6 linked regions of the Homo sapiens genome follow. The protein of the gene in region 1 purifies or fractionates together with the protein of each later gene. This does not show direct contact. Each region holds a gene or a part of one and is shown in the gene's direction. Other genes may lie near its edges.

What was found.
Region 2: the proteins of ARHGEF17 (region 1) and RPL10L purify together in Homo sapiens (affinity purification with mass spectrometry, with the first as the bait; one large-scale study listed by BioGRID). This does not show direct contact.
Region 3: the proteins of ARHGEF17 (region 1) and RDX purify together in Homo sapiens (co-immunoprecipitation; one large-scale study listed by IntAct). This does not show direct contact.
Region 4: the proteins of ARHGEF17 (region 1) and P4HA3 purify together in Homo sapiens (co-immunoprecipitation; one large-scale study listed by IntAct). This does not show direct contact.
Region 5: the proteins of ARHGEF17 (region 1) and FAM98A purify together in Homo sapiens (co-immunoprecipitation; one large-scale study listed by IntAct). This does not show direct contact.
Region 6: the proteins of ARHGEF17 (region 1) and LBR purify together in Homo sapiens (affinity purification with mass spectrometry, with the first as the bait; one large-scale study listed by BioGRID). This does not show direct contact.

What each region holds. Positions count from the first base shown.
Region 1 is NC_000011.10:73,363,107-73,368,528, forward strand, and holds part of ARHGEF17 (rho guanine nucleotide exchange factor 17), read left to right. Parts: intron 1-99; coding exon 100-349; intron 350-640; coding exon 641-727; intron 728-1,065; coding exon 1,066-1,133; intron 1,134-1,345; coding exon 1,346-1,494; intron 1,495-2,283; coding exon 2,284-2,458; intron 2,459-2,571; coding exon 2,572-2,841; intron 2,842-4,477; coding exon 4,478-4,674; 3' UTR 4,675-5,422. UniProt on the Homo sapiens protein: Acts as a guanine nucleotide exchange factor (GEF) for RhoA GTPases.
Region 2 is NC_000014.9:46,649,179-46,653,785, reverse strand, and holds RPL10L (ribosomal protein uL16-like), read left to right. Parts: upstream 1-2,004; 5' UTR 2,005-2,049; coding exon 2,050-2,694; 3' UTR 2,695-2,776; downstream 2,777-4,607. UniProt on the Homo sapiens protein: Testis-specific component of the ribosome, which is required for the transition from prophase to metaphase in male meiosis I. Compensates for the inactivated X-linked RPL10 paralog during spermatogenesis.
Region 3 is NC_000011.10:110,288,193-110,293,614, reverse strand, and holds part of RDX (radixin), read left to right. Parts: intron 1-5,422. UniProt on the Homo sapiens protein: Probably plays a crucial role in the binding of the barbed end of actin filaments to the plasma membrane.
Region 4 is NC_000011.10:74,271,719-74,277,140, reverse strand, and holds part of P4HA3 (prolyl 4-hydroxylase subunit alpha-3 isoform 1 precursor), read left to right. Parts: coding exon 1-156; intron 157-3,533; coding exon 3,534-3,596; intron 3,597-5,422. UniProt on the Homo sapiens protein: Catalyzes the post-translational formation of 4-hydroxyproline in -Xaa-Pro-Gly- sequences in collagens and other proteins.
Region 5 is NC_000002.12:33,584,954-33,589,945, reverse strand, and holds part of FAM98A (protein FAM98A), read left to right. Parts: intron 1-1,426; coding exon 1,427-1,611; intron 1,612-2,625; coding exon 2,626-2,706; intron 2,707-3,267; coding exon 3,268-3,384; intron 3,385-4,248; coding exon 4,249-4,416; intron 4,417-4,501; coding exon 4,502-4,992. UniProt on the Homo sapiens protein: Positively stimulates PRMT1-induced protein arginine methylation. Involved in skeletal homeostasis. Positively regulates lysosome peripheral distribution and ruffled border formation in osteoclasts.
Region 6 is NC_000001.11:225,413,835-225,419,256, reverse strand, and holds part of LBR (delta(14)-sterol reductase LBR), read left to right. Parts: intron 1-1,076; coding exon 1,077-1,273; intron 1,274-3,924; coding exon 3,925-3,979; intron 3,980-5,422. UniProt on the Homo sapiens protein: Catalyzes the reduction of the C14-unsaturated bond of lanosterol, as part of the metabolic pathway leading to cholesterol biosynthesis.

The sequences.
Region 1 (5,422 bases):
TCCGGAGGGGCATGGCCAGGAGGGATGCATGGCCTAGAAAGATATCAGGTCCCAGGCCTGGCAGAGGGAAATGGAGACAGAGACCTTTGTCTCCCTCAGATGAGGAGACCCCGAGTTCCAAGGAGGCCACGGCAGAGACCACCAGCTCAGAGGAGGAGCAGGAGCCAGGCTTCCTGCCACTGTCTGGCTCCTTTGGGCCTGGTGGTCCCTGCGGCACCAGCCCAATGGATGGGAGAGCCCTTCGCCGCTCCAGCCACGGCTCCTTCACCCGGGGCAGCCTTGAGGACCTGCTGAGTGTCGACCCTGAGGCCTACCAGAGCTCCGTGTGGCTGGGCACTGAGGATGGCTGGTAGGGACAGGGGAGGGACTAGGGACACAGTGCCAGAACTCTGAGCTCCCTGCTCTGGAAATCATGTGGTCCCCTGGAGCCAAGGCAGGAGGGCTTTGGGTCACACCTCAGGGGTACTGCTGACCAGGGATGTCAGTGGGTCTGACAATCCCAGGGAGGCTGTGGGACCTCAGTACCTTGGGCAGGCACCCAGCATTGAAGACGTGGTGCTAGGGGCAAAGAGGTGGAGGGATGACTCCAGGGGCTGGTGTGCCCCAAGCATTTGTCCCAGGTGCATACCCCGATCCACAGTGTCCACGTGTACCAGTCCTCCGACAGCATCCGTGACCGCAGGAACAGCATGAAGCTCCAGCATGCGGCCTCTGTGACCTGCATCTTGTAAGGCCCCAGGGTGGCCCTTCCTATCTAGACTCTTCTCAGCCACACGTGCAGGCCTCCTTCTGTTCATCTGGTCCCCCTGCTCTACTGTCCCTCCTCTGTGTGGAGGCTGGAAGCCAGAGGCCTGGCCCTAGGCTAGCTGTGCCTCTTACACACTGTGTGAGCTCGGGCAAGTCACCCCCTTTTCTTAGCCTCAGGCAACCCCCACCTGGAGAACAAGGGGTGGGAAGAGGTGGCCTCTCGGGAGCCATACCCATTCTATCTGTGGTTCCCCTGGTCCTGGGTGACCCACTTTGGCTGCCTGAACTCCCTTACTGCTTCCTCTTTTCCCTACCCAGGTATCTGAATAACCAGGTGTTTGTGTCTCTGGCCAATGGAGAGCTTGTGGTCTACCAAAGGGAAGCAGGTGAGTATCTGCCCTCCCCCACACCCTGCCCCTGTCCCCTTACTGGTGTTGGGGCTCTCTCCTGGAGATGTGGCTTTGGGCAACTCCCAGGCCCTCTGTGGGCCTTGGTTTCTTTGCTTATAAAAGGGGAATGTTAACATCTCATTTCAGGGGAGACCGAGGCTCAAATTTAGAACTGGAGTGAATTTCCTGTTTTCTTTACCCCACTCCAGGCCATTTCTGGGACCCCCAGAACTTCAAATCAGTGACCTTGGGCACCCAGGGGAGCCCCATCACCAAGATGGTATCTGTGGGTGGGCGGCTGTGGTGTGGCTGCCAGAACCGAGTCCTTGTCCTGAGCCCTGACACGCTGCAGCTGGAGGTAGCAGGGGGTGGGGGAATGGAATTGGTGCCATGGGATGAGCTAGGTCCGTGTGACAGGGAGATGGAGACCATGGTAGGGGCATAAGCAGCATCCAGCAGAGGGCTAGGGCCTTCCTCTGACCACAGAGTGACGCTGGCCAGTCCCTGTCCTCCTTCGATCCTCATTTCTTCTGTAGCTGATGAGGAATACAGTAAGTGTCCCATATACATTAGGAATCTTATTCATCCTCCTGCCCACCCTATCTCTCAACTCAGGTTTTAGGGTCCTTTGGGGATAGGACAAGAGTCCTTTCTGATGTCAACATCCATTAGCATTAGACTCTGGCATTTATTGCTGCACATGTCACTTGCACACATGTCAGAAGTATCCAGGGGCAACGGGTTCCCTTAATTTCCCTCACTTATTCCATTGTTGGCTGGGCAGGAGTCCAAAGCCCTGGGTTCAGGCCCCAGCTCTGTGACTGACTTGCTGTGTGACCTTTCCCTTCTAGGCTTCAGCTTCCCCACCTGTCCAGGGGGAGGCCAGTGACTGATTTTAGAACCCTTTAAGCATTGAAGTTCTCTGATCCTTAAATCACTCAAGTTTAATGGGGAAAAAGCACCTCCATTGTAATTCCTGAGAACTAAGTTGGGAGGTGCTGGTGAAACCAAGCTTCGAAAGGTTAATCAGACCAAGGACCAACGCTAGTGTGAGTTGTGAGGGATGGACACTGGTGAAGCTCCAGGCTAGGGTGGGCCAAGGGAGGCAGGCCTGCCAATGACCCATCTTCTCCCCCGCCTTCCCCAGCACATGTTTTACGTGGGTCAGGATTCAAGCCGCTGCGTGGCTTGCATGGTGGACTCCAGCCTGGGTGTGTGGGTGACATTGAAAGGTAGTGCCCACGTGTGTCTCTACCATCCAGACACCTTTGAGCAGCTGGCAGAAGTAGACGTCACTCCTCCCGTGCACAGGATGCTGGCAGGTACTGACCTCAAACTACCACAGCACCCTCCTTGGAGCCTTTCTGCCCGATCGTAGAGGCGGCTGAGCCAGGGCCAGAATTCAGCCCCAGCTGTGGTCTGTCTCCCACCCCAGGCTCGGATGCCATCATCCGGCAGCACAAGGCTGCCTGTCTGCGAATCACAGCGCTGCTGGTGTGTGAGGAGCTGCTGTGGGTGGGCACCAGTGCTGGTGTCGTCCTCACCATGCCCACTTCGCCCGGTACTGTCAGCTGCCCACGGGCACCACTCAGTCCCACAGGCCTCGGCCAGGGACACACCGGCCACGTCCGCTTCTTGGCTGCAGTCCAGCTGCCAGATGGCTTCAACCTGCTCTGCCCAACCCCACCACCTCCCCCAGACACAGGTGGGTCAGTGCATCATACCCCAAGCTAGGGATCATGGACATTTGGTTTAGGACTCCCCACTATCCTGCCAGAAGAGCTTTCAAGAGGGAGGAAAAGTGTCACATAGAGCTGGAGGTGGCATATGTGACAGGAAATACACCACGGAAGTGTCCAAATGAAATCTAGGATAGTTGTGTGTGTGTGTGTGTGTGTGCGCACCTGCATGTGTTGTGTGTATATAAAGTTCTATCCAGAGAAATGTCATGAGAGACAGGGAGGGAACTATAACCTAAGAGGTAGAATATGTCACAAATAGAATATGTATATAGAAAATATGTCCTGTTGTATATATTTCCTATATGCACCAGGAAATAGCACAGGACTAGAAATGATATATAGGGCAGGAAGTGGAATCAGGAAGTGATGCACAGAGCAGGAAATAGAAATAGCAACAGAAAACAACATAGAATGGCACTAGCACAGAAAATGGACTGATAATTAGAAAGTGAAACAGCCGGGTGCCAGGCGCGGTGGCTCACACCTGTAATCCCAGCAGTTTGGGAGGATGAGGTGGGAGGATCGCTTGAGCCCAGGAGTTCAGGACCCAGCCTGGGCAACATGGTGAGACACCATCTCTACAAAAAATACAAAAATTAGCCATGTGTGGTGGCACACACCTGTGGTTCCAGCTGCTCAGGAGGCTGAGCTGAGGTGGGAGACTCACTTGAGCCCAGGGAAGTCGAGGCTGCAGTCAGCAGAGATTGCACCACTGCACCCCAGCCTGGGTGACAGAGTGATACCCTGTCTCAAAAAAATAAAAATAAAAATATGGCCGGGCGTGGTGGCTGACACCTGTAATCCCAGCACTTTGAGAGGTTGAAGGGGGTGGATCACCTGAGGTCAGGAGTTCGAGACCAGCCTGGCCAACATGGTGAAAACCCATCTCTACTAAAAATACAAAAACTAGCTGGGTGTGGTGGCGGGCGCCTGTAATCCCAGCTACTCGGGAGGCTGAAGCAGGAGAATCACTTGAACCAGGGAGGCGGAGGTTGCAGTGAGCCAAGAGTATGTGCCATTGCACTCCAGCCCAGGCAACAAGAGCAAAATTCCGTCTCAAAAAAAAAAGTGAAACAGCAGGAAATGAGGTACATCAGGAGGCCACAACCAGAAAAGTCTTGCTTTGGCAGGACAAGAAATGATATTCCCAAGAGGAAGTGGCTGTGGAAATCAGGAAGCAATAAAGCCTCGGGTCAGGAGTTGTCTGGGTTCACAGAAGACTTAAGCTACCTGGGAAAGGGCTGTTGGAAGTAGGAGGCTTATTTAATGCAAGGACGTTGCGTGCAGTAATCAAGAGAGATAGAAAGTGGCATCTTACAGGGCACTTACATTGTAAAAAGAAAAAAATCAGAAGTGGCGTCACCTTGGGAAATTATGTGACTCCTGACTAGAGATTACAGATGGGACATAAGAAGTCTGGCTGCCAAGAAGTGGGCATTTCTTTCTAAATAAGTTCCTAGCTAACAGAAAGTGGGATTCCCCCATAGGAAGTGTGCACATCTTCCTTCCTATCTTCTGGGGTGTGGGAATTCAGGCCCCGATGGGACAGTGAAGCCTCCATTCGCCCCCAAGCTGACAGATCCTCCCCTCTGCCCCCAGGCCCCGAGAAGCTGCCATCACTGGAGCACCGGGACTCCCCTTGGCACCGAGGCCCCGCCCCTGCCAGGCCTAAAATGCTGGTTATCAGTGGAGGTGATGGCTATGAGGACTTCCGACTCAGCAGTGGGGGCGGCAGCAGCAGTGAGACTGTGGGTCGAGACGACAGCACAAACCACCTCCTCCTGTGGAGGGTGTGACCCTGTCTGCCGTGGCCCAGGACTCGCCCGCCCACCTGCCTTCAGCCTGCTTGCCTCTCCCTAGCCCACACGCAGACTTTGACCAGGAGTATCCAGCCAGGGGCACACATGTGCCTGCGTGGGCTCTGCCTTGTCTTCGCGGAAGCATTCCTGATGGAACACCCACTGGCCAGCCAGGCCATGGCTTCTCCCGACCCTCTGGCTGCCCCGGTGCTTCCAGTCATGATCGGGTGGGGGACATGTGGGCTGACCAGGACCTCTGACCCTGGAGCTTCTACCAAAGACACAGCTGGGTCTGGACCCCACGGGGCTGGGGAGGGCCATGTGCAATATTTGGAGGGTTTTCTGGAGGGCAGCAGGAAGGCTGGGGAATTCCCCATGTACAGTATTTATGTTTCTTTTTAGATGTGTACCTTCCCAAGCACTTATTTATGCAGTGACCTGGTCACCTGGGGTGGGGGTGATTTGAGGAAATGACATGAGGAAAAGAAACCTATTCCTGCCCTGGGGACCACCCTGGGACTCTAACCAAGCCTTCCTGGAGGGACCCATGCGCCCCTGAGCCCCATTCCATTCATACAGACACACACGTACGCACACTGCATGTCCAAGGCCCTAAACATTGCCCGTTGACATAAACTTTCCAGGGCCCCAGCCTGATGGGGCTGCCCTCAGTCCTCTAGATCAAGATGCTGACTATTAGGGGGCAGTGATTGCCATCTGGGGACCTGTCAGGCTTTGTCATTTC
Region 2 (4,607 bases), on another chromosome or scaffold:
GTATTGCGAAGTCTTCCTTTCTGATCTCCTTGCATACCTTTTTTGGGCTGGTTTCAGTCTATTCACCATACCATAACCAGAGTGATGAAACCTAAGTAAAGCTCTTTAATGGCCTCACATTAAAGATCAGGATCCCTAACTTGGTAAAATGGGCCCTGTATGAAAGCATGACCCCTTCTCTCTCACACATACACACACTCTGGGCTCATGTTATGTGACTCATTTTCTCACTCACAGTCACATTGGCCTGACTTTAAGTTCCTTAAAATGTTCCATATTTCTGCCTGCTTCAGGCCTTTTATACATCAGACCCCATGTGCCATGGTCACTACATGAAATTTCTTTTCTGATAAAGATTTTCCTGTCTATTCCTCAGTCTGGATCAAGGTCTCATCCCCAGCCTCATCCCACAGTCTCAGGGCTTACTTTGCTTTTCCTTTTTGGCACATTTTACACTTGGTAATATGATGATATATGAGAAGTATCTATATCCTCTCCTAGGCTTGTAAGCTTGGTGAGAGCAACATGGTATTAGCTACTTTATCTCAATATGTTAAACAGGAACTAGTTGAGAAAAAGGGGAAAGAAGAAATGAAGGAAGAAAAGGGAAGTGAGAAAGCTTTCTTAAAGGTCAGAAAGTTTTCTACATTGGGAGATTTAATTGTTTTATCTTTAGTATTTTGTAAAAATCCACTCACTTTAAGGGCAGGAGTTATTTTTCTCCCTTAAAACAAAGAGTATTGACAGAATATATTCACATTGGGGGGATTTTGTTCCATGATGTAATGGATTTGTGAAACAACATTAAAACAAAAAAGAAAACTAGAAAAATGCAAGTAGGGTTTGTAAACTATTAATTTCTTTTCCTCTCTCTTCTTCCTCCTTTCCTACACTCTGATCCCTGTCATAATATTTTTACAAACTCTGAGAAGAAAAAAAGTTTAAATTTATTCTCAGGGGCAAAAGATTACTAAAACACAAACTGTTACTCTTTTATATAGTTTCAGCAGCTTTAACATTTGAAAATGCAAATAGCCTTAAGTTAAAAAAAATCTAGTTGGTGTTTCAATTTTGTATATATCATTTTGATAATAAAATCATTTCTTTAGGCCAAATAAAGAAAAAACAAAGTTTCATGTTTATAAAACAATTGCCAAGCTACAGATACAACAGATATCTTCTCTTTATCCCTCTCTCTTCTCTTCCTCTCATCTCTTCCTGAGTCTCATCAAAGCACTCATGCCAAGAAACCACTTTATCCAGGGAAGGTGGCCACATAACCCAAGAAACAGCAATTGATCTACAAATGCTGACAGTGAGATACAAGCTCTGGAAAATGAACTGACCAAACTGGAAACAGCATGTTGAATAACTGGAAGGATTTTTCCTCTCAAATTCTAGGATTTCTTTTTTTCTTTTTCTTTAGACAGGGTCTCCCTCTGTCACTCAAGCTGGAGTGCAGTGGTGCTATCTCAGCTCACTGCAGTTTCTGCCTGCAGGGCCCAGGCGATCCTCCCACCTCAGCCTCCTGAGTAGCTGGGACTACAAGCATGTGCCACCATGCCCAGCTATTTGATATATATATATTTTTTTTTTTGTAGAGACAGCATTTCACTATATTGCCCAGGCTGGCCTCGAACTCCTGAGCTCAAGAGATTCTCCTGCCTGGAAATAACCTCTTTTATACTTAAAGCAAAGCTGAAAGCAAGAGTTCCTAGCCCAAGATGGCTAGCAGAAAGGAAGCAGCAGCTGTGCAGTTGGGGCGGGGCCCAATTCCTTCCCTGGCCGCCAGGGGGAGTCTACCCACAGCTGACTCTGCTCACCTTAAGCGCGCCACTTGGCGCAGGCGCTGAGGCGCCAGACGTCCCTGCGTCTCTGGTTGGGACGTCCTGAAAGAGAGTCGTCACATCCTCCTCAGGACTCTATGGTTCCGGCCTCAGGACTCTATGGTTCCCGCGAGGGACGAGGGGCAACGTATATAAATGCGCGCAGGCGTAGTTAAGAGAGCGCATTTTGACTTCGAGGCACCGCCGACGTTACTGTGTCGCCATGGGGCGCCGTCCAGCTCGCTGTTACCGGTATTGTAAGAACAAGCCGTACCCAAAATCTCGTTTCTGCCGAGGGGTTCCTGATGCCAAGATCCGCATCTTTGACCTGGGTAGAAAGAAGGCAAAAGTGGATGAGTTCCCACTCGGTGGCCACATGGTGTCTGATGAATATGAGCAGCTGTCTTCTGAAGCCCTGGAGGCCGCCCGTATTTGTGCCAACAAATACATGGTGAAAAGTTGTGGCAGAGATGGCTTTCACATGCGAGTGCGGCTCCATCCCTTCCATGTCATCCGCATCAACAAGATGTTGTCCTGTGCTGGGGCTGACAGGCTCCAGACAGGTATGCGAGGTGCCTTTGGAAAACCCCAGGGTACTGTAGCCCGGGTCCACATTGGTCAAGTCATCATGTCCATCCGCACCAAGCTTCAGAACGAGGAGCATGTGATTGAAGCCTTGCGCAGGGCCAAGTTCAAGTTCCCTGGACGCCAGAAGATTCATATCTCCAAGAAGTGGGGCTTCACGAAGTTTAATGCTGACGAATTTGAAGACATGGTGGCCAAGAAGTGCCTCATCCCTGATGGTTGTGGAGTCAAGTACGTTCCCAGTCATGGCCCCTTGGACAAGTGGCGGGTTCTGCACTCATGAAGGTTTTGGCAGTACTGTCTCCTTGGGCCATGCTGGTCTGACTTATGCTTACTAATAAATTCTGTTTACTGGCAAAAAATAACTCCTTATTAAGTTTTAATATTTTTTAAATATCCAATGTTTTAGAATATAGACTACTAGAGAATTTTTTTCTATTTATTCAGTTTTAATGGCAAATGTTACCTTCCTTGCTTCAGTAAAACTATACAATTTATAGAGAAAGCTGTTTTAAGCAAACACTTTAAATTTAGGAGAGTATAGAGCAATATGTTGAAAGTTTTGTTTGTAGTAAAGTCATAAGTTATGCAGCTATCATTCCTTGAATAAAAAATAGATTTGAGTGAAAAAATTTGTTTATAGAATATAAACTAAACAGTAGCGATGAAAATAATAGTAGGCATTAGTGATATTTCACCCACAGCCTCTTTGGAAGTAATTTATTTCTAAACTTGGTTGCCTTATGTTTTTCTATAAATTTCTGTACATTGTTTTTAGAATTACCTTACACGTCTGATTATCAGCCTTAGGACAATTGAGTATCACTCTGAAAGGCTTTTCCAGACGAACTTTACATTGTCTCACAGTCAAGAGATAACAGTCTAATCTTTTTTTCATCATAGAAAGGTCATAGGTGACAACAGAGTTCATATTACTTGTATCTGGGCTCCAGTAGAACCAAAAGAAGAGAGAAAATGACACTAAATCGGTTATCTGTGCTATAAAAGGACCCTAAAGAGAGTTTGCAATTGTAGGTGCTTGCCCTGAATTAGAGTTACGTTGATGACACAGGTGCTTTTTGTTTTATTTTTGAAACTACATAAGCTAAAATTCCTGAGTTTGTACTGCATTAAAAAAAATTCTTGTTCTTTACAATTGACTTAGCCTTTTGAATCTCAATCCTGCTAACAGTGCCTTCAGTGTTTTTAGACTAACGGTTCTTTTTCAAAGTCAACACATTTAATGAAAACAACAAAAGAAATAGTAAGAAACACTACTATTTAATTTTCATTTATTTAAAGAAATGCTATGTCAGTCTTAACATATTGTATCTGGCTGGATATTTATTTTAGGCCCTTGCTATAAGATATTTCCTATTTGTATATATTTAAGCTATGTTGCTATTTTAAGACGTTTTTCATGTTTGCGTTTTACCACACTTTCAAAAACGAAAATTCAACCTCTAAATAATAATAATAATCAAAAGAGAAAGGCAATACAAAACACAATAAAATCAGCAACCCCTTAGCTTCTAGTACAACCATGGCCCAGCTTTGAAAATATTTTCCATCTTCATTATTTCCCTTTCTCTTTGGTCTTAAACCTCTCAAAACATCTTGACCTTCAAACTTGGAACTCTGCACTCAACTAAATATATAGGGAGAGAGGTTAAGTATAAGCTCATGAACTTCCTTGCCCTAAGAGATTGGTAACAGTAATTGTTTATGCATATAGATATGGGAGTGAAGAGGAAATGAATGATTAAGAATTAATGCATTAAAAACTGGTAGGTAGCTGTCAATAAATTTTTTATTTGAATTTTCCCACAGTTTCACGTTATAAAGATTATATATAAATTCTTTTTTTAAACGTTGACATACAAGCACTTTTACTTGTTTTTGTTAAAAATCCTTCCTACTAATTTTCCCCAAGTCATTATTTTGTTTTTTCAGCATTTTCTTATTTTAGGGTCATTCTAATTATTTAAAAAAAAAATAGTAAGACAATTGGGCTGAAGGATCATTTAATTATAATTTTGCAGAGTTCGTTATTTTAAAATTTCTGCTCAAAATAGAAAATTGCATTTGGGAACATATTTCTGTTCATCTACTGCTGCAATAAAATGAACTGTTTGCTCGTTTTAAATAAAAGAATACAAGTGTAGTTAATGAAATTCCAGCAAATACTGCCCAATG
Region 3 (5,422 bases), about 37 Mb from region 1:
AGATTATTTTAAGTCTCATGGCATTACTGATCCAGCTGAAGACTGTTCTGGTAACTTCCTTGATTGCTGCAGCCAGGGTGTGCGTACTGCTTTGATGATAGAGGTGTCCAATCTGGCCCCAGAGAGTTCCTCAATTTCTAGCCTATTTTAGAGAAATCCTGCCTTTCCTACTTTAAGTTCCTGGTGTATATCTTTATATTGAATGTATAGCTTAAGCCATTTAAAAAAAACTATAAAAGTGATATATTTTATGGCAAAGTTTAAAAACTCAGAAAAATGTCAAGGAAAAGGTCAAAGTCCTCCTTACTCCCTGGAACACCCCAGCCCCTTTCCCAGTCCTGTTTTCCATAGGTAGCTGCTGTCGGCAATTCCTTGTTTATAGAAAATGCCAGTAGGTATGCAGGGATAAACATATACTTTATATCCCTTATTTGTGATTTTAAAGTCTTGTTAAAATAGGGTTATATTGTAACAGACATTGAAAGGATGCTTATTAACTTGTGTTAAACATTGAGTAAATCATATTTCTCATGTTTTCATCATTTGAATAAAAGCACACAATAGAATTCCCTACGCTAATTCTCAAGTGTGTGTATGTGCAAATTTGTTTGTGTACAGATTTTCTTGATTAATGATTGAAGATGAAGTTTACTTTTTGTTTTCTAGCATATGGCATATAGTTGACAATGAGAAATGGTGTCTTTTAAAAAAGGAGGTTTATAATTTGGTGTGGGAAATAGCCACATCTTGCTCTTTACAAAAAAAGTTTGCCAACTCCTTAGAAAAAACATCCTGTTGAAAGGATATTTTAGATACAGTATTGAAGAAACAGGTACTTCATTGTTTATTTTCTCTAAGATTATAGAATTTATAAAGCTATTAGTAATTGAGATAATGGACTGTTTTCTTCTGAGTTGTAGATAATCTCTATGGCTTTCAGGACCTTAAATGTTTTTTTTTTTTAATTTATTTGTGAAAAGTTTAAGTCAACTAGGACTGACTGCAGGTAAATTTGTGAAGTGAGCGCTCTTCAGTTTTGAGCCCTTAGATCCTTTAAGATGCATTGGCATCAAATAGCAGAAAATTCTCCAACTGGTTTAAACAATGAGGAAATTTAATGTCATTTTTTTCTTCATTTTTTTTTGAAAACAGAGTCTTCCTCTGTCACCCAAGCTGGAGTGCAGTGGCACTATTACAGCTCACTGCAGCCTTGACCTCCTGGGCTCAAGTGATCCTTTAAGTTCCTCCCACATCAGTCTCCCTAGTAGCTGCCAACACAGGCGTGTGCCACCATGCCTAGCTAATTTTTTTTTTTTTTTTCCAAGACAGGGTCTCGCTCTGTTGCCCAGGCTGGAATGCAGTGGCATGATCTCAGCTCACTACAGCCTCTGCCTCCAGGGTTCAAGCGATTCTCCTGCCTCAGCTTCCCTAGTAGCTGGGATTTAAGGCACATGCCACCAGGCCCGGCTAATTTTTGTATTTTTAGTAGAGACAGGGTGTTACCATGTTGGCCAGGCTGGTCTCAAACTCCTGACCTCAAGTGATCTGCCCGCCTTGGCCTCCCAGTGTGCTGGGATTACAGGTGTGAACCACTGTGCCTGGCCAACAACTAATTTTTTAAAAAGCCTTTTTGTAGATACGGGGTATCCCTATGTTGCCCAGGCTGGTCTCAAATGATCATCCTGCCTCAGACTTCCTGCCTTGGACTTTCTGCCTCGGCCTCCTGAAGTGCTGGGAGGATTACAGGTGTGAGCCACCATGCCTGGCCAAAATTTAATGTCTTGCATACTAAAAGTCCAGAGGCTCAAGAATGGTTCAATAATGACATCAAGGACTCCTTCTCTTTCCAACTCTCTTCCCTGTGATTTTCCCTATTAACTTCATACTAAGACAGCCCTTACCCATCTCAATTTGGCTGCTGCAAAGGAGCCAGGAGCGGTGGTGTGGACCTGTAGTCCCAGCTACTCAGAATGCTGAGGTTGGGGTATCACTTGAGCCTGGGAGGTCAAGCCTGCAGTTAGCCCCTTGTCCCAGTTTGGCTGCTGCATCCCATCCAGACAGGGCAGTATCCAAAGGAATAAGAGGAACTGTTTCCAGAAACCCCCAAGCAGATGTCTTTCGAGCCTCATTGGCCAGGATTGGGGCACATTCTATACCTAACCAGTCAACTGGCAAGGGTAATGGAATTGCCCTTTCTTCCAACTCTGTTCCCAATAGATACTTCTTTTTTCTTTTTCCTTCCTCCCTCCGTCCCTCCCTTTTTCCCTGTCTCCCTCCTTCTCTCTGTCACTGTCACCTCTCTGCTGCTGGAGTACAGTGGCATGATCATAGCTCCATGCCACGAACTCCAGGGCTTTGAACTCCGGGGCTCAGGCAGTCCTCCCACCTCAGCCTCTGGAGTAGCTAAGACTACATGTGCACACCACCATGCTTGGCTGATTTTAATTTTTTTTAGAGATACAGTTTCACTATGTTGCCCAGGCTAGTCTCAAACTTCTGGCCTCAAGTGATCCTCCTGCCTCAGCCTCCTAAAGTGCAGGCAACTGCACCCAGCCCTGTTATTTTCATTATTCATCTATATTACATGTCTTCGGTCCTTTTTTTACCCCCACCCAAAGTCATATCCAAAATTGATCCATTACAGATAGTCATATGTAGTGAGCTCATATCTTTGTAGGTACCAACTTCAGTTAAATTATGAAAGGAAAAGTGTTGATTCTTGTTAAAATACTTGGCAAATTGTGGTCCATGGGCTAAACCCAGCCTACTGCCTGTTTTTATAAAGTTTTATTTGAACACATCGTAGCTGACTTGTTTACATATTATCTATGGCTGCTTTCCTGCTACAACAGTAGAATGGTTTCAACAGAGACTGTGTGGCTTACAAAGCTTATAATGTTTACTTACCTGGCCCTTTACGGAAAAAGTTTGCCGACCACTGCTTTAAGATGTCAGTCGTACATTTGGACAGTTATTATATGCCACATACTCTTTGCATTTGAGAATGGAAAGATGAGTAAAATACTCAGGAGTTCTCACTCTAATGGGCAGATAGATGTGCCATATTGTATTCATAAAGTGTGTTAAGTGCTTTTTTTTTTTTCTTTTTGAGACTGTCTCTGTTGCCCAGGCCAGAGTGCGGTGGCTTGATTATAGCTCACTGTGACCTTGACCTCCCAGGCTGAAGTGATCCCTCCACCTCAGTCTCCCAAGTAGCTGGAACTATAGGAGCTTGCCACCACTCCCGGCTTTTTTATTTTTTGTAGACACGGGGTCTCACCATGTTGCCCAGGCTGTCCTGGGTTCAAGTGATCCTCCCGCCTCAGCCTCCCAAAGTGCTGGGATTACAGGCGTGAGCCACCACACCTGGCCTGTTAAGTGTCACAGTAGTGTGTATAAGTTAATTAATACTCCTTGCAGCAGCATTTTAAGCACAGTATTCTGTGCTGTGAGTTCTGGATGTTTCTTGCTTCCTCTGTTTTTTTTTCTTTGTTAAATCTTCCTGTTGTTTTTGTAAATTGACTGATAATCTTTTAATAAGTTAACCAGAGTGGGTATTTTTGTTTATAACAAAAAATCCTGGTGAGTACATGGAATAATGTGGATGCATTAATGCAACGTAAGGACCCTTGTTTTTTTTTTTTTTTTTTTTTTTTTTGAGACAGTCTCACTTTGTCACCCAGGCTGGAGTGCAGTGGCATGATCTCAGCTCATTGCAGCCTCTGCCTCCTGGATTCATGCAATTCACCTGCCTCAGCGTCCCGAGTAGTTGGGACTACAGATGCACACCACCAAACAGGTCACCACGTCTGACTAATTTTTATATTTTTAGTAGAGACGGGACTAATTTTTATATTTTTAGTAGAGACGGAGTTTCGCCGTGTTGGCTAGGCTGGTCTTGAACTCCTGACCTCAAGTGATTCACCCGCCTTGGCTTCCCAAAGTGCCGAGATTTCTGGTGTGAGCCACCGCCCCCAGTCAACATAAGGACTCTGAGTGAAAGGGAGAATGGGAACATAGAAAATCTCAGCTGTGGTTAATTGACTTTAGATCCCTTTGGCTTGGATTAAATTTTCTTAGCCATTGTGAGGACTCCTGATACTTAAGCTGTTTATAGGTTCTAGACTTAGAAAAACTATAAAAACTTAGTTTGGCTATTCAGCAAAGTTAGTATATATCACCAGAAAGCTTACTGCTAATATCTAATCAACAAGCAGCATGGTAATTACAGTTATCATTAAGTGTGTCAAATTATCTGGCCTTTAATTTGATTGTCAACTTAATTGAAATTATTAAAACAGTTTTGGATAGAGATGGTTAAGGCTTGAATTTGGGAGGCCTAGTTGTAAAAAGTTTTTTTTTTTTTTTTTTTTTTTGAGATAGAGTTTTGCTCTTGTTGCCGAGGCTGGAGTGCAATGGCGCGATCTTGGCTCACCACAACCTCGGCCTCCCAGGTTCAAGTGATTCTCCTGCCTCAGCTTCTCAAGTAGCTGGGATTACAGGCATGCGCCACCACGCTCGGCTAATTTTTTATTTTTGGTAGAGATGGGGGTTTCTCCATGTTGGTCAGGCTGGTCTCGAACTCCCAACCTCAGGTGATCCGCTCACCTGGGCCTCCCACAGTGCTGGGATTGCAGGTGTGAGCCACCACGCCCAGCTGTAAGGAGCTTTTTTTGTTCCCCATGTTCATGTTGGTTCTCTCTTCTTAGTGATGCTTATTAGTTTGGTCATTTTACAACATAAAAAAAGAGAGGAAACTATTGCCCTTGACACTAATCAACAGAAAAATTAAAACTAGTATTATGTGTAAGATTAATTCACCAACAAAATCAACAGACATTTTGAGGCCCAACTGTGAACCAGGCATTGTATCAGTTTTTCAAAAAAGGGAGTTAATATCTAGAAAATTAGAAGCTTAATTTTTTTATAGCAATAGAACTGCCATATAGCCTCGTTGACTGTGTTAGAGAATATTGTCTAATTATAAAGACATTTAAGAAACATACTGACTTTGTTCTGTTTTGAAAATAAGCTATAATATCTGATGTTTCAAAGCACATTAAGGGTAGAATTATTTGTGAGAATTATTTTGTGTTTGCTTCTTTCCTGTTATATAAGTGACTTGCATGAACCTGTTTTCCCATTTCTAAACATTTTTATGTGAATGTTTAATGTTTTCTTAAGAGTGAAATGAGGAAGTTGAACTGGATTTAGCTTTCTTACCTTTTAGTATTTAATAATTGCAAATGATAGTGTATTATTTTGTTTTCTGCTCACCTTAGGAACAATACAGGTATGATTTTCCTTTTTAAATTTACAAAACTCTTAGAAGAGATCCTAAACTCAGTGTAAAACTTTGGTGTTAATATTGCAGTTCAGCTTTATAAATTTTAGAAATTTGCTTTGCATTTTCAGTAACATG
Region 4 (5,422 bases), 910 kb from region 1:
TGGCTGAAGGACACTGTTGACCCAAAACTGGTGACCCTCAACCACCGCATTGCTGCCCTCACAGGCCTTGATGTCCGGCCTCCCTATGCAGAGTATCTGCAGGTGGTGAACTATGGCATCGGAGGACACTATGAGCCTCACTTTGACCATGCTACGGTAATGGTGGAGTCAATGACCAATCCCCTGGGGTAGGGAGCCAGGGCATTATTTATTTCTCTGAGGCAGAGCTCTTGTAGGCTCTCAGGGAATACTAAGTGAAATCTTAGAACAAAGGTTCTTTTTCCAGAAATATCTGAAAGCCTTAGTTTCAAGCATATTGTTGCTGACTCATTTTCTTGTCTGCCACCATCTCCCTTCTAAAATTTGCTGGTGAGGGAAGAATGTGGCTTGTCATGGAATCATCGGACTGCTCCACTCAGGGACTTCCTAGTGAGGATTGTCCTTCCTCCAGTAACTCTTCTAGCCTCATGATCTCAACTGGCCATCTTTGCTGATAATAGCAAATAATTTTTTTAAAATTTTAGATTCATGGGGTACATGTGCTTGTTTTTTATTTACGTATTTATTTATGTATTTATTTTTTTCTTTATAGGCAGCATCTTGCTCTGTTGCCCAGGCTGCAGTGTAGTGGCACCATCATAGCTCACTGCAGTCTTGAACTCCTGGGCTAAGTGATCCCCCCATCTCAGCCTCCCAAGTAGCTCTAGGACTACACCTGGCTAATTTAAAAAAATTTTTTTTGTAGAGACAAGGTCCTGCTATGTTGCCCAGGCTTGTCTTGAGCTCCTGGGCTCAAGCGATCCTCCCACCTCAGTCTCCCAAAGTGCTGACATTACAGGAGTGAGCCACTGCACCCAGCCATACTTGTTATATGGGTATTGCATGTGTAATGGTGGGGACCACACTTCTAGTGTACCCATCACCCAACTATTGAATGTTTTACCTGACACGTAATTTTTGAACTCTCACTCCCCTTTCACCCTCCCCCATTTTGCAGTTTCCAGTGTTTGTTACCTCCATCTTTATGTCCATGTGTACCCATTGTTTAGCCCCCACTTATAAGTGAGGACATGCAATATCTTATCTTCTGCTTTTGAGTTAGTTCACTTAGGATAATGGCCTCCAGCTCCATCCATGTTGCTGCAGAGGAAATTATTTCATTCTTTTTATGGCTGGATAGTATTCTGTTATGTATATATACCTTATTTTCTTTATCAAATCAACCATCGATGGACATTTAGGTTGGTTCCATGACTTTGCTGTTGTGAATAGTGCTGCAATAAATATCTGGGTGCAGGTGTTTTTTCTGTAATATAATACTTTATTTTCCTTTGGGTAGATACCCAGTAGTGATTTTTGAGGATTAAAATGACCTCCCCAAAATTGATCTATAAATTGAACCCCAGCTTTATAAAAATTCCAGGAGGTTTATTTTTGTAGAAATTAGCATGCTGATCCTAAAATGTATATGGAAATGCAAAAAACCTAGAGCAGCCAAAACAATTTTGAAAAAGAAGAACAAATTGGAGGACATACACTATCTGATCTCAAAACTTAATATAGAGCTACAGGAATCAAGGCAGTGTGGTACCAGTGTAAGGAGAGACACATATGTCAATGGAACAGAACAGAGTCCAGAAACAAACCAACACATTTATGATCAATTGGTTTTGACAAAGGTGCCAAGGAAATTCAATGAAGAAAATACAATCTTTTCAATAGACAGTATTGGAACAATTTAATATCTATCTGCAAAATAATAATGACTTTACACCCTTACCTTACACCATATATGAAAATTAACACAAAATGGGTCATAGATGTAAATGTAAAACTATAAAACTTCTAGAAGAAAACATAAGAGAAAATTTTTGTGACCACAGGTTAGGCAAAGATTTCTTAGATATGACACCAAAGTATGATCCATAAAAGAAGAAAACAACTGATAAATTGGACCTTATCAAATTAAAATTCTTTGCTTTTCAAAAAACATCATTAGAAAAGGAAAAGACAAGCCACCAACTAGGAGAAAATATTTGCAAATCATATATTTGGTAAAGAACTTGTATCCAAAATATCTATAGAACTTTTATAACTCAGTAATAAGATAATTCAATTTTTTTTAATGGACAGAAAGTTATTTGAGTAGGCACCTCTCCAAAAAGGATAAATGAATGGCTAAGAAACATATGGAAAGATGCTCAACATCATTAGGGAAATGCAAATTAAAACCACAATGAGATAGCACTGCACTCTCTTATGATGGCTACAATAAAATAAGATTATACCAAGTGGTGGTGAGGATGTGGAGGAACTGAAGCTCTCATACACTGCTAGTGGGAATGCAAAATTATACAGACACTTTGGAAAAAAGTTTGATGGTTTCTTAAAAAGTTTAAGATTCACCTACTTATGATCCAGCCATTTCACACCTATGTATATTACCCAAAAGAAAAAGAAAATATGTCTCTACAAACATTTGTACAGAAAAGTTTATAGTAGCTTTATTTGTAATAACCAAGAATTGGGGCTGGGCACGGTGGCTCATGCCTGTAATCCCAGCACTTTGGGAGGCCAAGGCAGGCGGATCACGAGGTCAGAAGATCGAGACCATCCTGGCTAACACAGTGAAACCCCGTCTCTACTAAAAATACAAAAAAAAAAAAAATTAGCTGGGCATGGTGGCAGGCGCCTGTAGTCCCAGCTACTTGGGAGGCTGAGGCAGGAGAATGGCATGAACCTGGGAGGCAGAGGTTGCAGTGAGCTGAGATCACGCCACTGCACTCCAGCCTGGGCAACAGAGTGAGACTCCATCTCAAAAACAAAAAAAAAAAAACAAAAAAAAAACCAAGAATTGGAAACAGCCCAGATGTCTGTCAACAGGTGAACGGATAAACAAATTTTGATATATCTGCACAATGGAATGCTATAGAGAGAAAGCAGATAAGTGGGTTGCCTGAGGTTGGAGGTGAGAGCAGGGATTGACTCCTAACTGGCATGAAGGAGCTTTTCAGCAGATGGAAGTGTTCTGTGTTCTAAACTTCAATTGTGGGAAAACTCATTGAACAGTAGGCTTACAAGGGGTGAATTTTATGGAATATAAATCATATCTCAAACTGTTCCATGACAAAAAAAAAAGAGTATGTCTCTTCAGCAAGTAATTGGAACTCTGGCCTTATGATTTGGTATTTCTACAGAATAATTGTCTGTAATATTTTATATATTAATTTCTATATTTCACAGAGAACTCAAAGGTGCAATTAACCCCTCATATAGTACTTTCACTACTGACAAGTAGTTCTGTTTGGTAGTAGACAATTCTTTTATATAAGTATCTAATAAATTAGTAAAAAAAAAAATTGTATTGAGTACCTGCCAGCAAAGACGGGCACATACTCCAGTAGGTGTATATCAGAACTATATCCCATCTTTGATGCCCCCATTTTACTTCTATTTGTATTAATAGTGGAATCCTGCCTGTCCCTCTGGTGCCATCTGCATAAAATAATATGTTCTGTTTTTTTTTTTCTCAGTCACCAAGCAGCCCCCTCTACAGAATGAAGTCAGGAAACCGAGTTGCAACATTTATGATCTATGTGAGTATTGCTCTGGGCTTCTTACTTCATGACTGACTATAGCTCTACTTTATTTTATTGTTTTCAAAGCAATTTCACGTATTGATTTTATCTGGTACTCAGCGCAAAAATCTCCAGGAATTTTGCGAATTTCAGACAGCATTTTTGATAGGCACTGTAGGAGATGTAAAGAAATACAAGACAAGGTTTCTACCCTGAAAGAGGCTGACAGTGTGTAAATCTAAATATGACCTTGGTATGGGCAGTGGATTAGGATGGGAAGTGGAGCTCCACTGAAGGCCAAGAGATAGAGGGACTTGAACAACACAGGAGGAGGATCTGAGAATCTGTGTCCTTGAGGTCTCATGGACTAATCAGTGTTGAAAAACAACCCATAGATGAGGTTGTGGGGCTGTGGGGAGGGAGATGGATGAGGAATGAGGCAGCAGATTTACAAGAGGGAAGAACAGAGACACTGAGAGAAATTCAGCAAGTGCTGCCTCTGATGTTTAGTGAAAATTCTCTTCCTTATCTCTCTATAAAATCTTCAGTAAAATCTCCATGACTCCCCTTTCAAGATAAACCAATAAATTGTACTTCTCTCCTAATTCCTGGCCTGATCAGGATTCGGCCCCAGTCTGTATCATCTCACCTGTCCCCTTCCCTTCAGATCATGTGGGTTTACTTTCGTCTCTATGGACAAGCTTCCAATCACCTGTCACTGGAAGAGAATATTAGAATTAATCACTTATTAGAAGAGATACCTTACTGTTAACTGAAGGGACAAACATATATAAGGGTTCTATATAACAACCAAAGATGAAGTCCTTGTTTCAGCCTCATTAGAATAGCAGACATCCCTCACCCCAGCTTTTCCTCTTCTATTAGGACTGTCTCTGGTCTCCACAGGACAGCCAAGAAAGGGCAGTCAGAGGCCAGCATTCTGTGTAGTCTTTAATGCCAGCAATTCCAGTGTGTTTCTCTATGTGGCTCAGTTCTGTACTTCCTATGGAACTGGAAGGCTTCCACTTACAATGGTGTCTGGCCTCATTCTGATCATTCTGAGGTCAGCTATCAGGCAGGGGACACATCTTGGAGCTGCAGTTGGTTGCATCTCTGGTTGACCACTCCAGCTGTTATGGGAGGTCACAAACGGCGAAAGAATGAACTGCTGCCAAAAAACAGGGCATCTAGGGCACAATATATCTCTGTTCTTTATCCCCTCAATATCTCCTATGGCTGGTTCCCTGGTTACAGGGCCCCAGTTACTATAGCGAAGGTAGCGTGGGTATAAGAGCCCAGTAATTTTAAATGGCAAATGCATGTGTGTGTGTGTGTGTGTGTGTATGTGTGTGCATGCACTCTCATGCACTTTCACATGTGTGTGCATGCATGTGCATTTGGGTTTTAAGTATTTGAGACAGAGTGGAATGGAATACACTTTGGATTTGGAGTCAGTTGACCTAATCCTGATTTTGCCACTTACTATGTGGCCTCAGCACAGATTACATCTATTATGTGAGCTCACTTTTTGCCCTGTGCTTCCTCACAGTGTTGTTGTGAGGGTCTGATGAGATAATGTAAGGAGGGATGTCACTCTGGAAAGTTCCATACTGTATGTTTCTGTCATTGTATCCCACAGAGCAATTAAAGGAAAGGGTATCATAAAGGGGAATCAGTATCATGGGACCAGGGAAGTGCTAGATTATGCCCAAGTCTTTCATCTTCAGGTTGGGATTTCTCGAGACAATTTCAAGACAAACATTTCTCAAGACAAATGTTAAGGTTTGTGGGAAACCTAAGACTGATTTTATAGGGAGAAAATAATCTTTAAGAAGTACAGAGGA
Region 5 (4,992 bases), on another chromosome or scaffold:
CATATAGTATATGATTTTCTAGAACAAGAGTTGGCAAACTTTTTCTAAAAGGGCCAGATAGTAAATATTTTTGGCTTTGTGGCCCTAAGTTCTCTGTCACAACTACATACCTTTGCTGTTACAGCATGAAAGCAGCCATAGACAATATATAAATGAGTGAGTGTGGCAGTGTCCTAATGAAACCTTATGTACAAAAACAGTGGTTGTTGTCTTAACAGTGGGGTTTTACTGTTTTGACGTTTTAACTCATAAATACAGTTTGCTGTATGGAACATGTTAAGATTTTACAGTGTCAAATCCATTTAGAATGACCTTTCCAGAAACTTAGCTGTATTTATTGTTTTAGAACAGGAGTTGGCAGCCTTTCAGAAATGATTTGCCAAAATTATGGCCTCTGTCCTTCTAGCATTACATTTTGGGTATAGGAAATTTGATACACAAGTTGACTTTTTTCTACTTCTAATAGGACCTGAGGGCCTTGAAAATATCTTTTCCCAAAACTGGTTTTGTTATATTGTCAGAAGAATCTCACTTTGTCACATAACCAGAAATCCTAAGATTCAAATGATTCTTAATCATCTTTTATAAAAATTGAAATGTCCTTGGGAATGTTAAAGGAATGAGATTGAATATTTATACCTTCAACTGAATTACCTGAAACAGATTGCAGCCCCCATTATACCAGGCTGAAATCAGCACACAAGGGGATGATACTGACACAAAGGGAACCATGCCAAAAAGTGCTTTGAAGGTTTTATGGTTGTTTTGAAGGGAATGGGGTGAGGAAAGTAGGGGGAAGGGAGTCCTGAGAAGAATATAGATGAAAGAGGGCTCTCTTTGATTAGCCAGAGGGCAACATAAGATTTGGAGACCATGGGAAAGGAGCTCTGGGGTGCCTTCCTGCTTCTCCTGTGAGTTAAGCTTTGACTTCTTATAAATGTTGTTTCACACCTCTTCTGGACAGGCTCCTAATTAATGGGAGACAAGAGAGCAAGGTAGTTGTGTCATTGATGCTCACAAGTAGTGAGAAGTTAAAAAAAAAAAATTAATTGTCATTAAAAATTGGTCACCTGCCTTCTTTTGCAAAATTTTTAACAGATGCCAACCCCTGTTCTGGAGGTTCCTTAATACCAGAATTCAAGATTCCAAATTTTTAGATGTTACTTACCTCGATCCTTCGGTTTCAAAGAGAATCGCTTATTTTAAAATTAACATTTAAACATTATATATCGCTTAAATAACTGAATTACATAACCAGTTTATTTCTTATTTCATTTGCAGGTAAAAGTAGTTTTTCTTTCTTGTTTTTATCCATTCTTGCAGCTTTAACAGTTACATATCAATAGGTCTATATAGTTGTGACTCCAGACTTATGACTATAACTATAGCTGTATCTCATTTTGAAATCTTATTTTGTTTACTTCAGCATACCTCATCTCAGAACTAGAAGCTGCCAGAATGCTCTGTGTGAATGCTCCTCCAAAAAAAGCTCAAGAAGGAGGCGGTAGTGAGGTCTTTCAAGAGTTGAAAGGCATATGTATTGCTCTAGGAATGTCCAAACCTCCAGCCAATATAACTATGTTCCAATTCTTCAGCGGGATTGAAAAAAAAGTAAGACCTTTAGTACCAAATTGTAGTGTATTAAAGGCATAGTCCTACATTTGTTTGAAATGAAGCAATTAATTTAATTTCTCTTAATGGGAACCTAATGTGCATATATTATTAAGTAATTGTTACGAAATGAGTTTTGGGTTTTAAATCCTAGATGCCTTAAAGATAAATTAGTATTTTAGTATTTTCCTAAAAACATGTTAGCATGTTTCTTTTTCAAAAAGGAAACTTTACACTGGTTTGTAAGCTAAAGTAAGCTAGATATAATGTAAAAAGGATTAAGATTTCAGTCCTTTTAAAAATTATTTTATCATTGAACTTTGATACAGTCAATTTAAGTTCTTTATCACTAAATGTTACCACCCTCCTCCCCATTGACTGGACAGAAAGGATATTAATATTTTTGTTTTTTAATCCAGTCACTTCAAACCTCATGCTTCAATTGACAAAATAGATTTGTTGACTGCTAACATAATCTAGTATGTGAAAAGAAATTAGAATTATTTTTATACCACACATTATCAGTTAAGATTTTCTATATAATTAATTAGGAACAAGCAATTTTAACAAAAATGAGTAGAAGAGAACGGTATTTGTTAAAGCACAGTTATTCCCTATACGCTTATCTGCTGGACTCTTAAGAATTGGTACATTTGCATTGTGGGGTAGACCAGCACCATGATGCACAAATTTGGCTGAACTCTACAGGGGAGCAGCAGTGTATCCATAGTCCATATTTTCCTGTGTGTTCATTCATCCATTCAGCAAATGTTCATTGAGTGCCTACTGTTGTCAGGCACTGTTCTAGGTGCAATGAAGGACTTCTGTAGGCGTGAGGAGTGGGACCAGTGAGTGTCTTTATCTTGTGGGTCTTTTACATTTGCATTTCAAAACATCCTCCACCTTTGCCTCTGTCAGGAATCTTCTTTTGATGGCAAGATATGATGGGAATTGGGAAGATGAGGATGTTTTACTTTTAGAGTTTTTATTCATTTATTTATGTTTTTGTGTCAGTTAAAGGAAACATTAGCAAAAGTTCCACCTAATCATGTGGGAAAGCCTTTACTGAAGAAGCCAATGGGACCAGCCCACTGGGTGAGTAGTAATCATCTTGAGTAAACTTTGTAAAGAACTATAGAGTTTATGATTTTCATGTCAACACTTACATTTTGTGCTTTTTAAATTATGTTTTCTTATACATAGTTTTCTAGTTGAACACCCTTAGAATCATTTTGTGAATCTCAGGATTTCTGCAGAATATTTTTATTTGTGTAAGATTAGAAGCACTTTTCTCATACTTTGTAAATATTTCACACAGCTGATAAAAGTAAACTGAAATTAAGTATGGTGCATGTTTCTCGTTGCCAAATGGATTGCCTTCAAGCCAAAAACTTCACTGGGCTGAGCTTCACACAGTAAATTATGGGAAAGATAAATAAGAATTGTGTACTTCACATACTCTTCATTATGTTTTGTGAATCAGCTTTTTGTCACCTATCATTTCATTAATTGTTAGTATATTATATGGAATAAGAACTTTTGACTGTTAAATGGCCGGGATCTCAGTTATGAATGACACAGACGTAGTTTTTGCCCTTTTGGGACAGAGAATCAAGCAGATTTAAACTCTAACTAGTCTTTTTAATTTTGCTTCAGGAAAAGATAGAAGCAATTAACCAAGCCATAGCCAATGAATATGAAGTCCGGAGAAAGCTGCTAATAAAACGTTTGGATGTCACTGTACAATCCTTTGGCTGGTCTGACAGAGCTAAGGTACACATTAAATAATTTAAAAGAGCAGACTATTTATAGACATGATCCCTGAACATCTAAACAATTTAGCTACTTGGCAACTATGGGAGAAGTACATAGAAGACACACATAGGGATTTTTCCTTAGTGAGTTATTGAGTAGTGGCTCTTTCAACTATTCAGCAATGATGAAAACATTTATTTTTCAATTTTCTATTTTTTAACAAATCTGAATTTTACAGTTCTTATTGGAGAGAGAAGTTCTTATTATGAGAGAAATGGAGTTATTCTGAAAATTACTAAAATAATAAATTGATTTCAAATTACTTGTTTACTTTAAATAATTTAATTTGCTAATAGAAGTTAGAAATATTGGATTTGGTATGATTTATAGACAATTGGAGAATTTGGTAAGACTTAAGTTTTTTTTCAGCTAAATGAGACAATCCAGGTAAAGACCTTGGTCATTCAGCAGATAGTTATTACCTCATAGAAACCAAAGATAGGAAAATTAAAAAGCAAAATTGTTGAAATAGCTTTATATTCTTATATTTAAATAGAGAAAATGAGTATGTTTGATCTGAGACCAATGATGGGGGAACCTTTTTATCACGTTGGCCTCATAACCCTAAAGGGGCACCCTCTCACTCCACCCCTGCCCCCACAGTCCCTGTCACTCCTTGTTGTGTCAACAAGTCTGGCAGCTGTACTTTTAAGGTAGTTCTTGACTATGTAGGAGCAGTAGTGAGTATATAACTTTTCCTACCATCTAGAGCCTAGTAAATATCATTATCAGATATTTTGGAGACCTTTAACTTATTTAATATGTGTTTCTTATGTCATTTTGAAAATTGACATTTCTCTTTGAACACTTTTCTTTCAACAGAGCCAGACAGAAAAATTAGCCAAGGTTTACCAGCCGAAACGTTCAGTCTTATCCCCTAAAACTACTATTTCTGTTGCCCATCTTTTGGCTGCAAGGCAGGACTTGTCAAAGATTTTAAGGACAAGCAGCGGCTCTATAAGAGAAAAGACTGCCTGTGCCATCAATAAGGTGATTAGAGTACCTTTAATTTTTTCCAAATGCATTTATTTCTGTTCATAAAATAAAAGTTTAAAATATCTTTCCTATTCTGTAGGTGTTGATGGGCAGGGTGCCTGACAGAGGTGGTAGACCCAATGAAATCGAACCTCCACCCCCAGAGATGCCACCGTGGCAGAAGAGGCAAGATGGCCCCCAGCAGCAAACAGGAGGCCGAGGAGGAGGGAGAGGTGGCTATGAACATTCCTCATACGGAGGACGAGGAGGTCATGAACAAGGAGGCGGGAGAGGTGGACGTGGTGGCTATGACCATGGTGGCCGAGGGGGAGGAAGAGGAAATAAGCATCAAGGAGGCTGGACAGATGGAGGGAGTGGTGGAGGAGGTGGCTACCAAGATGGTGGTTATCGAGATTCAGGTTTCCAGCCAGGTGGCTATCATGGTGGCCACAGCAGTGGTGGCTATCAAGGCGGAGGTTATGGTGGCTTCCAAACATCTTCTTCATATACAGGAAGTGGATACCAGGGTGGTGGCTACCAGCAGGACAATAGATACCAAGATGGCGGGCACCATGGTGATCGTGGTGGTGG
Region 6 (5,422 bases), on another chromosome or scaffold:
CTCAGAGCTGGGCCCAGAGAGGGCAGGTGGGGTGAGCTAGGGGTGGTTGCCACAAGGTGAACTGGAAAGGCCTCTCTGAAGACATCTGAGGCAGGCAAGGTAATGAGCCTGGTGGGAACCTGTGGAAGAGCCTTCCAGAGAAGGAACAGTGGGTGCAAAGGCTTGAGGTGGGAGCATTTTGAGGGATTATGGAGTAGAAAGGATGCCATTGTAGCTGTGTTTAAAACTTTTAGCAGTCTGTTCAGAGGTTTTGAGCACAGAAGTACAAAGAAGTGATAAAGGAAGGTTGATCTGGGAGTTTGTATAGCATAGATGGTTACTTATCAGGGACAGAGAGCTCTGCTAATAGTCAGACCTGAGGCGGCAGGGGCCAGCAGTGGGCCTCAGCTGCCTGCATAAAATGGGATCCCGGAGGCTGCCCTACCTGCTAGGCGGGTTGATTGTGAGGGTCAAAGATCTGAAGTGTGCAGAGTTTTGGAGTTACTAAGTGGGTGGAACTGATGAAATTTTATGAGCTAGTAAAAGAAAAGACTTCTTGTCTAAATGGCTCAAAATCCTGCATGGCTTAATTGCTTTGTATTTTGTTATAACCTTTGGCTAGCTGGCCTGTTACAGATGCTGTCCAGCATCACTTAAAATCTGCACACATTACATGAACGTGACACTATTTTAATTGTTAGAAACTGAGGAATATAAAGTTTTTTGTTAAGATTAGGCTGATAATTTTTAGATGTTCTGATCTTCAGTTTGCTGGAGTTTCAACACATTCGCTCCTTAGTGGTTGGAGGTCAAATGTTTTAGAGCTTGGTTTCTGAGGTGGGTGTAGCTATTCAATGTTGGACCTCTTTCTTTTTTTTTTTATTTTTATTTATTTATTTTTTTTACTACTTTGATGCCCATGGTTGCCAGGCCACCAGAGGTGACAGGTAGAGATGGGAGTTTTTGATGGTACATTAGAAATTGGTTTCAGACAGTTAGCCAGATAACGAGTTCTGATCTTAACAAATCTAACATGATTCTTAAATAAATAAACCAGATTGAAATTTGAGCCTCGAATGTTCATGAATTGTTTGCAGGTGTGTTTCTCATCATGTTTGGCCTGCCTGTGTTCCTCTTCCTGTTGCTGTTGATGTGTAAACAGAAAGATCCCAGTCTTCTGAATTTCCCTCCTCCTTTGCCAGCTTTGTATGAGTTATGGGAAACCAGAGTATTTGGGGTCTACCTCCTGTGGTTTTTGATTCAAGTCCTGTTCTACCTACTGCCAATTGGAAAGGTACGTTTATGGTAATTCTGTTTTGTTTTAATAAGATGAGGTCTCACTATATTGTCCAGGCGGGTCTCCAATTTCTGGGATCAAGTGATCCTCTTGCCGCAGCCTCCTGAGTCGCTGGGACCACAGGCCTGTGCCATGCTGCCCAGCCTTAGAGTAGTTTAAAGGTTAAAGGCTGTTGTTGGTCATAATTCCCAAAACTTAGTTCATGAAGCCATTTCTCTTGTGCTGTCTGTATAACACTTGCTTATTAGGAGGAACTTAAAAAAAAATCTGATTGAGATTTCTTGTGTAACTTTTCAAACCAAATAGAAAAGAATAGGCTATTTTGCAAAGTAGCCGACTCTCAGTGGAGGTTGCTATGGAAAAAAAATTCACTCTTAGTATGTGTCATTTCAGATGCAGCATTTTAAATGATTAATTGATAGGCTACTGGGCTCGATGGACTTTAGTCTACATCTTTTACTTTAAAAAAGTATGAAAAGTTTCTAATTTTCATCTCTTTCAGAAGCTTGTTGTCAAGAACATTTTACGTTGTTTTCAGATTCCTGCAATATCTTTAAAATTTGTCTCTCCATTGCTAAGTGTAGTTTTTTCTTCTTTCAGTAGAATCCTTTACTTGGATATATTTAAAGAAACATGAGATTCCCTAAGTAATAAATAATTTATTTAAAGATCTTATTCTTAGGGCTTTGCAAGTTTGCCAACTGTCTGTAAACCAAAGGATCGGTTTTACTGGTGAATGCCAGTGATAGGAGGGTAGAGCTGCAGGCTTAATACTGTGGAGTGAGACCATAACTTTAGTGGCTCTAGCAAGGATTTTTGTGATAAAGACCTTCAGTCATTTCTACAGTAAGCCTCTACAGTTAAATTCAGATTCATTTAGGGTAAGGTGATTTCAGAGTATCAAGGAAAGCAGTTTTGGTGTTTAAAGTCATATATGTATATACTCATAGACTAAAGTGACTAAAAGCATATATATTAAAATATATATTAATATTATGCAGTCATCCCTTGATATCCTTGGGGAGTGGTTCCAGGACCTCCTGTACATACCAAAATCTGAGGATGCTGAAGGCCCTGATAAGAAATAGTATAGTATTTGCATATAACCTGTGTGCATCTTCCTTGTATACTTTGTTGCCTTTAGGTTGCTTATAATACCTAATACAACGTAAGTGCCATGTAAATAGTTATCATACTGTATTAGGGAATAAGGACAAGAAAAAGAAGTCTGTACATATTCAGCTCAGATGCAATTTTTTCCGAAATATTTTGGATCTGGTTGGTTGAATCCATGGATGTGGATCCCGTCGATACGGAGGGCTGACTGTATATTTGGATCTATATATTCACAGATTAAAGCCTAACACAGCATTTACTAGACTCCTTTAATAGATAAGGATCATCTGAAATTAGCATGTGGCATTTTACTAATCCTGTGATCTCAAACAGCTTTTACGTTTCTCTTGGGAGAGGAGGAATGCTAGCTAATGAAATCTGTAGCTAATGATAAGATAAAGTAGTTTAGCCCAGAGCAAATGATACTATATTTATATTTTACAGTTTGAAATGAATTGCTACATTTCTGAATAGTTATTTTGTGGGGTAAAACGTGGCTGCATTGAGCAAGTGGACTTTTTACTGAGCCAGTTCTATTGGGTACCATGCCTGTGGGTATCTCTGTGCTGAATGCTGTGAGTGATGCCGAATGAAGAGAGGAGATGGTTCTGATGCATGATGCGTGCTCACAGTCTCTCTCTCTCTCTCTCTTTTTTTTTTTTTTTCTTGAGACAGGGTCTTGCTCTGTTGCCCAGGCTGGAGTGCAGTGGTGCAATCTGCAACCTCCTCCTGGGCTGAAGTCATCTTCCCACTTCAGCCTCCCGAGTAGCTGGGACCACAGGCGCGTGCCACCAGGCTTGGCTAGTTTTTGTATTTTGTATTTTTGTAGAGAGGGGATTTCACCATGTTGCCCAGGCTGGTCTCCAACTCCTGGACTCAAGTGATCCTCCCACCTTGACCTCTCAAAGTGCTGGGATTACAGGCATGAGTCACCACACCTGGTTTCTCACAGTCTCTTATTGCAGATAAAAGAATCACATGAAATGGTTAAATAACTGGATGGGCAATATATATATAATATATAGCAGAGCAAGTAAGCATATGAGTATGCGTCATCAAATAGCACTTGGGTCATAGTAGAGTGGATAAACAGGGTAGAGCCCAATTGAAAAGGACCCCACAAATGGAAGACAATGGAATCATACTGTTACTTTGTAAGAGTATGGTAGCCATTGGTAGATGTTTGAGCTAGGGATCCACTAGATATAAAGGTATTTAAGCACATTTAGTCTTGAGGTGGTGGTACACAGGAGTGTGGCAGGGAGCGTGGCTGTTGCAGTTGCTTGGTCCTACACTAGGAAGTCATTACTGAATTTGTATTTAAGATAAATTCCTGAAGGTGGAATTGCGTCATTAAAGGGCTTGCCACTAGGGTTTTTGAAACATATTACTAAATTTCCATGTTACAAGATATCTTCCTTCTTGGGCGTGTTGAAAATTAAGTGATACTAGAATATATATATGTGTGTGTGTATATATGTATATATGATGGTGATGTGCTTAGTAAATTTGTAAATTTTTTTTCTTTTAAGGTTGTAGAAGGAACGCCTCTTATTGATGGAAGAAGACTCAAGTATAGATTAAATGGTGATTTTCTTTTTTTAAGACTCAAATTGATGATTTGATAGCTTAAACTTCTAAGTGTTAAACTCTTTGTTAAAGCTGATTAGACCAGAGTAGTAAGTGATAAATTATTTCTTAGTAGTTGGAAGAGCAACTGTTTATACCTGTAGCCAACTTGTATAAATTATGCCATTAAAGTAACATAGCCTCTTAGTCACTCTTGTCCACTCTCCAGTTTTATTTTCTTAATAGTGCTCATCACTGTTAGAAATCATTGCACTTGTCTAGGATTTTATCACCTGAGGTGTTACACGGATGTGGGCATCCAGGCCACTCCTGCTGCGTGAGCTGCTCTTGTCCTTGCTCATGTCCTCTGGGTTGTCCCTTGAATATTCGTCACACACACTTCCTGGGCCTTTGCCTGGAGAACTTACCCCCAAACGTCTGACACCTGCATCTTCACCTCCATCTGTCTTCTGCTGAGAGAAGCCTTCAGGTCCCTTTCTCTCCCCTGCTCTGTTTTGTTTTTCTGTCTGACATTTGTGCCTCCACACATCAGTGTATTTGTCTCTTCATTAGGGTCTCTCCACTAGAATGTGGCTTCATGGGCTAGGACTTGGCTATGTTCATTGTGACACTCTTGGTGCTAGGAAGATGGGCATGTAGTGGGTGCTCATTCATATGTGAGTGCTGGATGGATGAGTTGTGAGCTTGCTGGGCAGCTCAATAAATGGATAGACCTTGCTCCCTGTGGGTCCGGCATCTCGCACTGTAAGAGCATGTGCTGAGTGCTTCAGTCCAGCTTTGTCATTTGAAGACTTTGGCAAAGTACAGATCTATTTTGTAGTCATCCTTGAATGATTTTCCATTTGACAAGACGGAGTAGAGTGTTTTCCTTTTCTTGAGAATTACATTATGTATTGTAATGGTTGAACTTTTTATCCTTTCAATTCTTCATTTTTTAACTTTGGATACTTTGTTTAGAGACTTACGCAGCATCTACTCTGTCTGCAGTCACTCCACTGGGTTCTAAAGGGGAAGCCAAAGATAGTTTAGACACCTTCTGCCTTTTAGTGCCAGTCATGTGATAAAACGTCTCCCCCAGCTCCAGAGTCTGACCCCTGGTGGGTGCTTAATACTTATCATTGGTATTGTTAGACTTTTTGTTGCTTTTACCAAATTCTTTGCTGATGGAGCAAGTTTTAGAACCTTTGGCACCCTCCCTCCCTCTGGTGGTTCACTTACCACACCAGGGAAGGTGAGTCTGGGGTGAGGTGGGTTGTTGACTTTGCCGCCAGGTCCTTTGATTTCAGTGTTTTGTGTGTTTCTCTGTAGGTACCAATTCTTTTCTAAGTAGTCTTGTGTTATATTTTCACTTCCCTCTGAGGGGTGTGGTACATTCAGAGACTGAGCACAGCACTTGGACATGGAGCTCTTGGAGCCAGTGGGGGAGTGGCTGGCCAAGTT